Regions from separate parts of the Homo sapiens genome. Here region 2 is linked to region 1. Evidence: fine-mapped QTL for protein levels in blood plasma. Region 1 holds a variant in brackets. A gene starts in the other region. All regions are shown on their reverse strands.

Region 1 (2,911 bases):
GCGTTCATCATCTGCTCAAAACTGCACAGCAGGTGAATGGTGACATTGACACATCAGAAAAATAACAGACTGCTTGGAGGGCGACGTGCTAAGCACTTAACGGGAATTATCTTAGTAAGTCTTTACGCCACTGTGATGAAGTAGGTAGCGTTCTCATAATTGCCATTTTACAGATGAGGACACTGAGGTTCTGGGAGGTTAAGAAACTTGCCCAAATGATGTAGTAGGTGGCCAAGCTGGAATTCCAAAGCAAGGATTTGTAAAGATTATGCTAATCAAAACTCCCACTGCCCTTGTCTGTTTTTGTTCTTCCCCTAAAGCATACCTACGTTTTCTTGTCTCAGGGAGCATGATGTGTGAAGGACTTTGGTTCTCATTGGCCAGAGACACCGAGTCCATCTCAGTCTGAAGTCCTGGGATCTGAGATTCCCTGAGTGTGTGGATTCCCTGCTAGGCAGGATGCAGTTTGACTGACGAGTTCCTTTTCTTTTATTTTCTTCTATTTAGCGACTTGCTTTTCCTGATATCCTCTTTTAGGAGGCTGTTAGGCCCCTGGGCCAGAGGCCTTTTATAGCACCCAAAAAATTGCCTTGTAGCAATCTGACAATTTTTTATAATAATTTGGGTCTTATTTCTAAATACAGTAACAATTTGGGGTCTTTTGTGTTATTTTTGTGTTTTGGCTCACCATCATTCAGTTTGGATTTTGTTGTGTGAAGTTCCCCAACTCCTGGCCTATTTCCATCCACCCTTTTATTCATGGGATAAATAGTAACTGTGTACCTACCCCCAGAACCTCCTATGACAAGGCACCCTAGGGCTCAGAGTAAGTTGTCTTCCCCCCCCCCTTTTTTTGACTATTGATAACACAAATAAAGCTGCAATAACTATCTTGGTTGAGACACAGCTTTCTAAATGCTTGTCGATAGCTTGCTGGTGTACGACCTTAGTTTTTACCGCGTCCCTGCCTTGACCACCCATCCTGCCCTCAAGAGGACACAGGGCTCCTCTCTGGGAAGATCCAGGGTTGGCAGAAAGGAAAGATTTCCTTCTTGACTTGTGATATGGCCTCTGTGCCAGGCCCTGTGCTAGGCCCTGGGAATGGAGTGGGGAGCGAGGCTCAGCCCTGTCCTCTGGACAGCCTGGACTGGCTCTCTGCATCTTACATTTGATTTTTAACAACAGTAGGAGAGGATGAACGCTGGAGAGGAACAGAAACCAGAGATCTGGGCTTGCAGCCCTCCCTGTTAACCTCGACAC[G/C]GCCCCCTGTGTCCTCTTGGTTTCCTGTCCCTCACCACAAGAAGCAGTGTTCAAATCGGTTTCTAGATGGCTCCGATGTGGCCACGTTTGGGTGGGTCTGGTGCATGTTGGCTCAGCTGGGAACATGCCAGTGTTTGGGGGTTGTTGTTGTGCAAGCCTGAGGGCCGGCTCACTGCACGAGGTCAGGGTGTCCTGGTGGGCCTTGTTCTGCTTTGTGATGACAGCAGCCCTCCAAGACGGTCAAGCTTGACCATATAAATTACCGTATAAATAACCATGATGGGTATGAATGACTCACTTAATGATTTCATTTCTGTATTTCACACCTTTTGGTGCTACCATGCTATGCATTGAGGGTCCAGGATGTGTAAGGCACTAGCACAGCACCTGAGATATTTTTGAGTGGTGGGGCAGAGAATGTGGTACAAAAAGATGAATGAGGCTGGATGCAGTGGCTCACGCCTGTAATCACAGTGCTTTGGGAGGCTGAGTGGGGAGTATTGCTTGAGGCCAGGAGTTTGAGACAGCACTGAGGGTCCAGGATGTGTAAGGCACTAGTACAGCACCTGAGATATTTCTGAGTGGTGGGACAGAGAATATGGTACAAAAAGATGAATGAGACTGGATGCAGTGGCTCACGCCTGTAATCACAGTGCTTTGGGAGGCTGAGGGGGGAGGATCGCTTGAGGCCAGGAGTTTGAGACCAGCCTGGTCAACACAGCAAGATTCTGTTTCTTACATTAAAAACAGCAACAACAACAACAACAACAACAACAACAAACAACCACCCATGAACAAGATCTAAGGAGTGCAGGGAAGGCAGTGGGTGCCTCTCAGCACACAGTGAGGCTGGTGCGCTGAGAGGTTTCCCCTCATTGGGATTTCTTTGTTCTCTTTGCTATTCCTCCCATTCAAGCAACCCTTTCTCTGCTCTTCCCTAGGTAAGGGGTGTGAGAGCAGAAAGACAAGCAGTCCTCTTTCGGCTGCAGTGACCATTGGGGTGCTCTGCCCAGGTCTCCCCGCTAGCTGCAGTGACAGTTGATGATGGCCATGGCAGAGCCCGCACTGGATGCCCCCTCCTGCTGCAGGGAATGGCCTCTTTTCAGGTCATATCCCCCAGGTTCTGAAACTGACCGAGGAAGGAACGCAAAGGCTCGGCCCTCTTGCCTCAACTTGGGACAACTCTGATGGGCCGTCCCAGCTCGAGAGCGCCACTTAGGATTGGCTGGGGGTGGCTCCAAGTGTAGCCTCGTTGCAGCCAGCTTCAGCTTCTGCAGCATCCTGCCTTTCTCACTTCTTTACAGGAGAATCTCCCGAGAACACCCTCTGATCAGCACTCTGCATGCAATTTCCATCTCAGACTCTGTTTCTAGGAAGACTTTCAGGCAGCTGACACTGGACGTGGTTGTGAGTTGCAGGCCCTAATGAAAAATTGGAGAGGAAGCAGGTGGCCGGCTGATGAAATGATAACCAGAAGGCCTGTGGGCTTGGGTGGCTGAGGCTGAGGCTACTGAGTGTTGAAGAGAGAGAGGCAGAGGCGCAGGATGACTCATCACTGGTTTCAGGCAAACTGTGAAAGCCAGAGCACTTCCTTGGCAGCATTTAAGAAAACCCCGATGATCTGCAGCTGGAAGGCAGGTTGGCTGGAGGA
Region 2 (2,901 bases), not on the chromosome of region 1:
AAGTGCACATCTAAACCAAAATGAGATACCGTCTTACCCAGTCAGAATGACTATTACTAAAAAAACAAAAAATAACAGATTTTGGCAAGGATGAGGAGAAAGATAACTCTTCTGTACTGTTGGTGGGAATTTAAACTAGTACAGCCACTTTTGAAAACACTATGGACATTTCTCAGGAACTAAAAATAGAATTACTATTCGATCACTCAAGCAATCCCACTACTGGGTATCTACCCGAAGGGAAAGAAAGAAATACATCAAAGAGATACCTGCATTCACATGATTTTTGCTGCACTATTCACAATATCAGAGATATGGAACCAACCTAAGTGTCAATTAACAGATGAATGGATAAAGAAAATATAGTATACATGCTATTTGGCCATAAAAAAGAATGAAATCGTGTCATTTGCAGCAACATGGATGGGACTAGAATTCATTATCTAAATTGAAATAAGTCAGACACAAAAAGACAAATGTTGCATGTTCTCACTTACATGTGGGAGCTAAAAAAATATTATCACATGGAGGTGGACAGTAGAAAGATAGACAACAGAGACTGGAAAGGGTCAGATGGGGGAGGACAGAAGATGAAGAGAAGTGAGTGAAGTGCTACAAACATACAGTTAAAAGGAATAAATTCAGCGTTAGAGAGCAGAATAGTGTGATTTTAGTTAACAAGAATGTATTGCACTCACGTGACGGACACTCTAAATATCCTGACATAATCATTACGCATTATATACATGCAAAAAAATTTTACATCTACTCCTTAAGTTTGTAGAAATAAAAAAATTTACAAATATATGGTGGCAAATTCTAATACCTCATAGGTATTAGAGATTTGCCAGATGCATACTGCACAGAGGAAAATAGAAAACCATGTGAGCTAGACCTAAAAATTTTAATTTTGTCAGGATATTCTGCTCACGTTGTCCAGAAATATGTCTTTTGTGCCACATTTAACTGTGAGAAGCAGATTTTTCACAGGAAAGAAATTGCTAATCTCTATGATGAGGACCTAAAAAAAAATCTCTCCAGTCCACACTGCACTGAGTGGCAACATTAATTCAAAAGAAGTTTCTTCTGCACTGCAGTTCATAAAATATGTGTCCTTTTTGATTTACATGAAGATGTTGCATGGTTCTTATTTTGGAGATGTCATTGAAATTTTGTAAATCAGCGTACTAGCTGTCAAGGAAAAACCTCCATACTCATGTTTTAAAAAATATCTGGCATTCTACTGTGTCACTTGGCAAACTCACCAGTGTCCACAGCTCTAAAGCTAGATAGTGAGGGTGTGTGCTGAGGATGGGAAGCTATGGATGGGGATCATCTCAAGGGTAGGGACCAGGTCCCTGGCATCTCTTCTCCAGCCCGACCTACATACAGATGCTCACTATGTCTTTGGTGAATGAATGAATGAATGAATGAATGAGTGAATGAATGAGTGGCTATCACCCACACTGCACCTGGGACCCTTCTTCCTTTCACTGTCCCAGACACTCCCACAGACCCTACAGAATCCTATATCCTGCAGGACTGACTTTCTCATGGCGTGGGATGAGGCTGTGACTCTCTGGGGCCAGGAGTGACCAGCTCCCAGGTGTAAACAGTGGTGCACAGAAAAGCACCTCAGGTGGGCAGGGCCTTGGACACAGGTTTCGCATTCCTCAGATGCCCCGGGAGGCCCTGGTCCGGGCTCTGTTGCTCACAGGAAGCCCCGAGGTGGGAGGCGGGACACAGTCTCTTCTCCTCTGCTCTTCTTTGGGCAGGTCTCTGGGTCTCAAAGTTTCCGTCTGCTCTGTGCAGAGGGAGTGGAGCTCCGAGGGCTTGTGGCTTCGCAGTTCCTCTTCTGTGAACAGCCGAGATCACGCGCTCCTCCCCAGCCACCCGTTCCTCCCCGCAGTCCTTCCCCTCCACTCCCTTCCCCTTCTCTGCTCATGCAGGGAGCCCAGGAAGCCTCCGCCTCAGAGATGCTACCGCTGCTGCTGCCCCTGCTGTGGGCAGGTGAGTGGGCCAGGGGAGAGGTGCCGTGGGGCTGGGCCGAGCTGACCCTCATGTCTCCATAGGGGCCCTGGCTCAGGAGCGGAGATTCCAGCTGGAGGGGCCAGAGTCACTGACGGTGCAGGAGGGTCTGTGCGTCCTCGTACCCTGCAGATTGCCCACTACCCTTCCAGCCTCGTACTATGGTTATGGCTACTGGTTCCTGGAAGGGGCTGATGTTCCAGTGGCCACAAACGACCCAGACGAAGAAGTGCAGGAGGAGACCCGGGGCCGATTCCACCTCCTCTGGGATCCCAGAAGGAAGAACTGCTCCCTGAGCATCAGAGATGCCCGGAGGAGGGACAATGCTGCATACTTCTTTCGGTTGAAGTCCAAATGGATGAAATACGGTTATACATCTTCCAAGCTCTCTGTGCGTGTGATGGGTAAGGAACCAGCTCCAGGACTAGCCACAGGGGAAGGTCATGGGGGCCGTAGGGCAGGGCTGGGACGGGAGCCCCGTCTTGGGAGGCGGGTACAATTAAGCATGTTGGGCTCAGAGAAGGAGCTGGACCAGAGACTGGGCTTCCCCCTGGGTGAAACCTCAGACCTCCATCCTGATCCTGCGTCCCCATCTCCTCACCAGCCCTGACCCACAGGCCCAACATCTCCATCCCAGGGACCCTGGAGTCTGGCCATCCCAGCAATCTGACCTGCTCTGTGCCCTGGGTCTGTGAGCAGGGGACGCCCCCCATCTTCTCCTGGATGTCAGCTGCCCCCACCTCCCTGGGCCCCAGGACCACCCAGTCCTCGGTGCTCACAATCACCCCACGGCCCCAGGACCACAGCACCAACCTCACCTGTCAGGTGACGTTCCCTGGAGCCGGTGTGACCATGGAGAGAACCATCCAGCTC

Which allele goes with the higher level. Positions count from the first base shown, and alleles are read on the strand shown. Strength reflects both the effect of a copy and how common the allele is.
For the plasma level of the protein whose gene starts at base 1,922 in region 2, C is the low allele of the variant in region 1 and G is the other (moderate association).

Evidence for each region. PIP is the chance, under the fine-mapping model, that this variant and not a neighbour inherited with it causes the effect. Protein levels are from antibody-based Olink assays in UK Biobank. Linkage for the fine-mapping came from a reference panel and not from the study's own genotypes, which makes the PIPs less certain.
Region 2: it holds the start of SIGLEC6, and the variant in region 1 is fine-mapped to the plasma level of the SIGLEC6 protein (UK Biobank, PIP above 0.99).

What each region holds. Positions count from the first base shown.
Region 1 is chr2:8,302,079-8,304,989 of GRCh38, reverse strand. The region is part of intron 2 of LINC00299 (long intergenic non-protein coding RNA 299); the gene reads left to right. Among named protein-coding and RNA genes, the nearest start is that of LINC00299, 25 kb to the left of the region's middle. RefSeq lists enhancers at 893-1,112, 2,599-2,658. The variant G/C (reference allele first, on the strand shown) is at 1,261.
Region 2 is chr19:51,530,691-51,533,591 of GRCh38, reverse strand. It overlaps SIGLEC6 (sialic acid binding Ig like lectin 6), which reads left to right and starts at 1,922. Exons shown (of 8, transcript NM_001245.7): 1 at 1,922-2,010; 2 at 2,073-2,432; 3 at 2,633-2,901. The coding sequence starts at 1,944.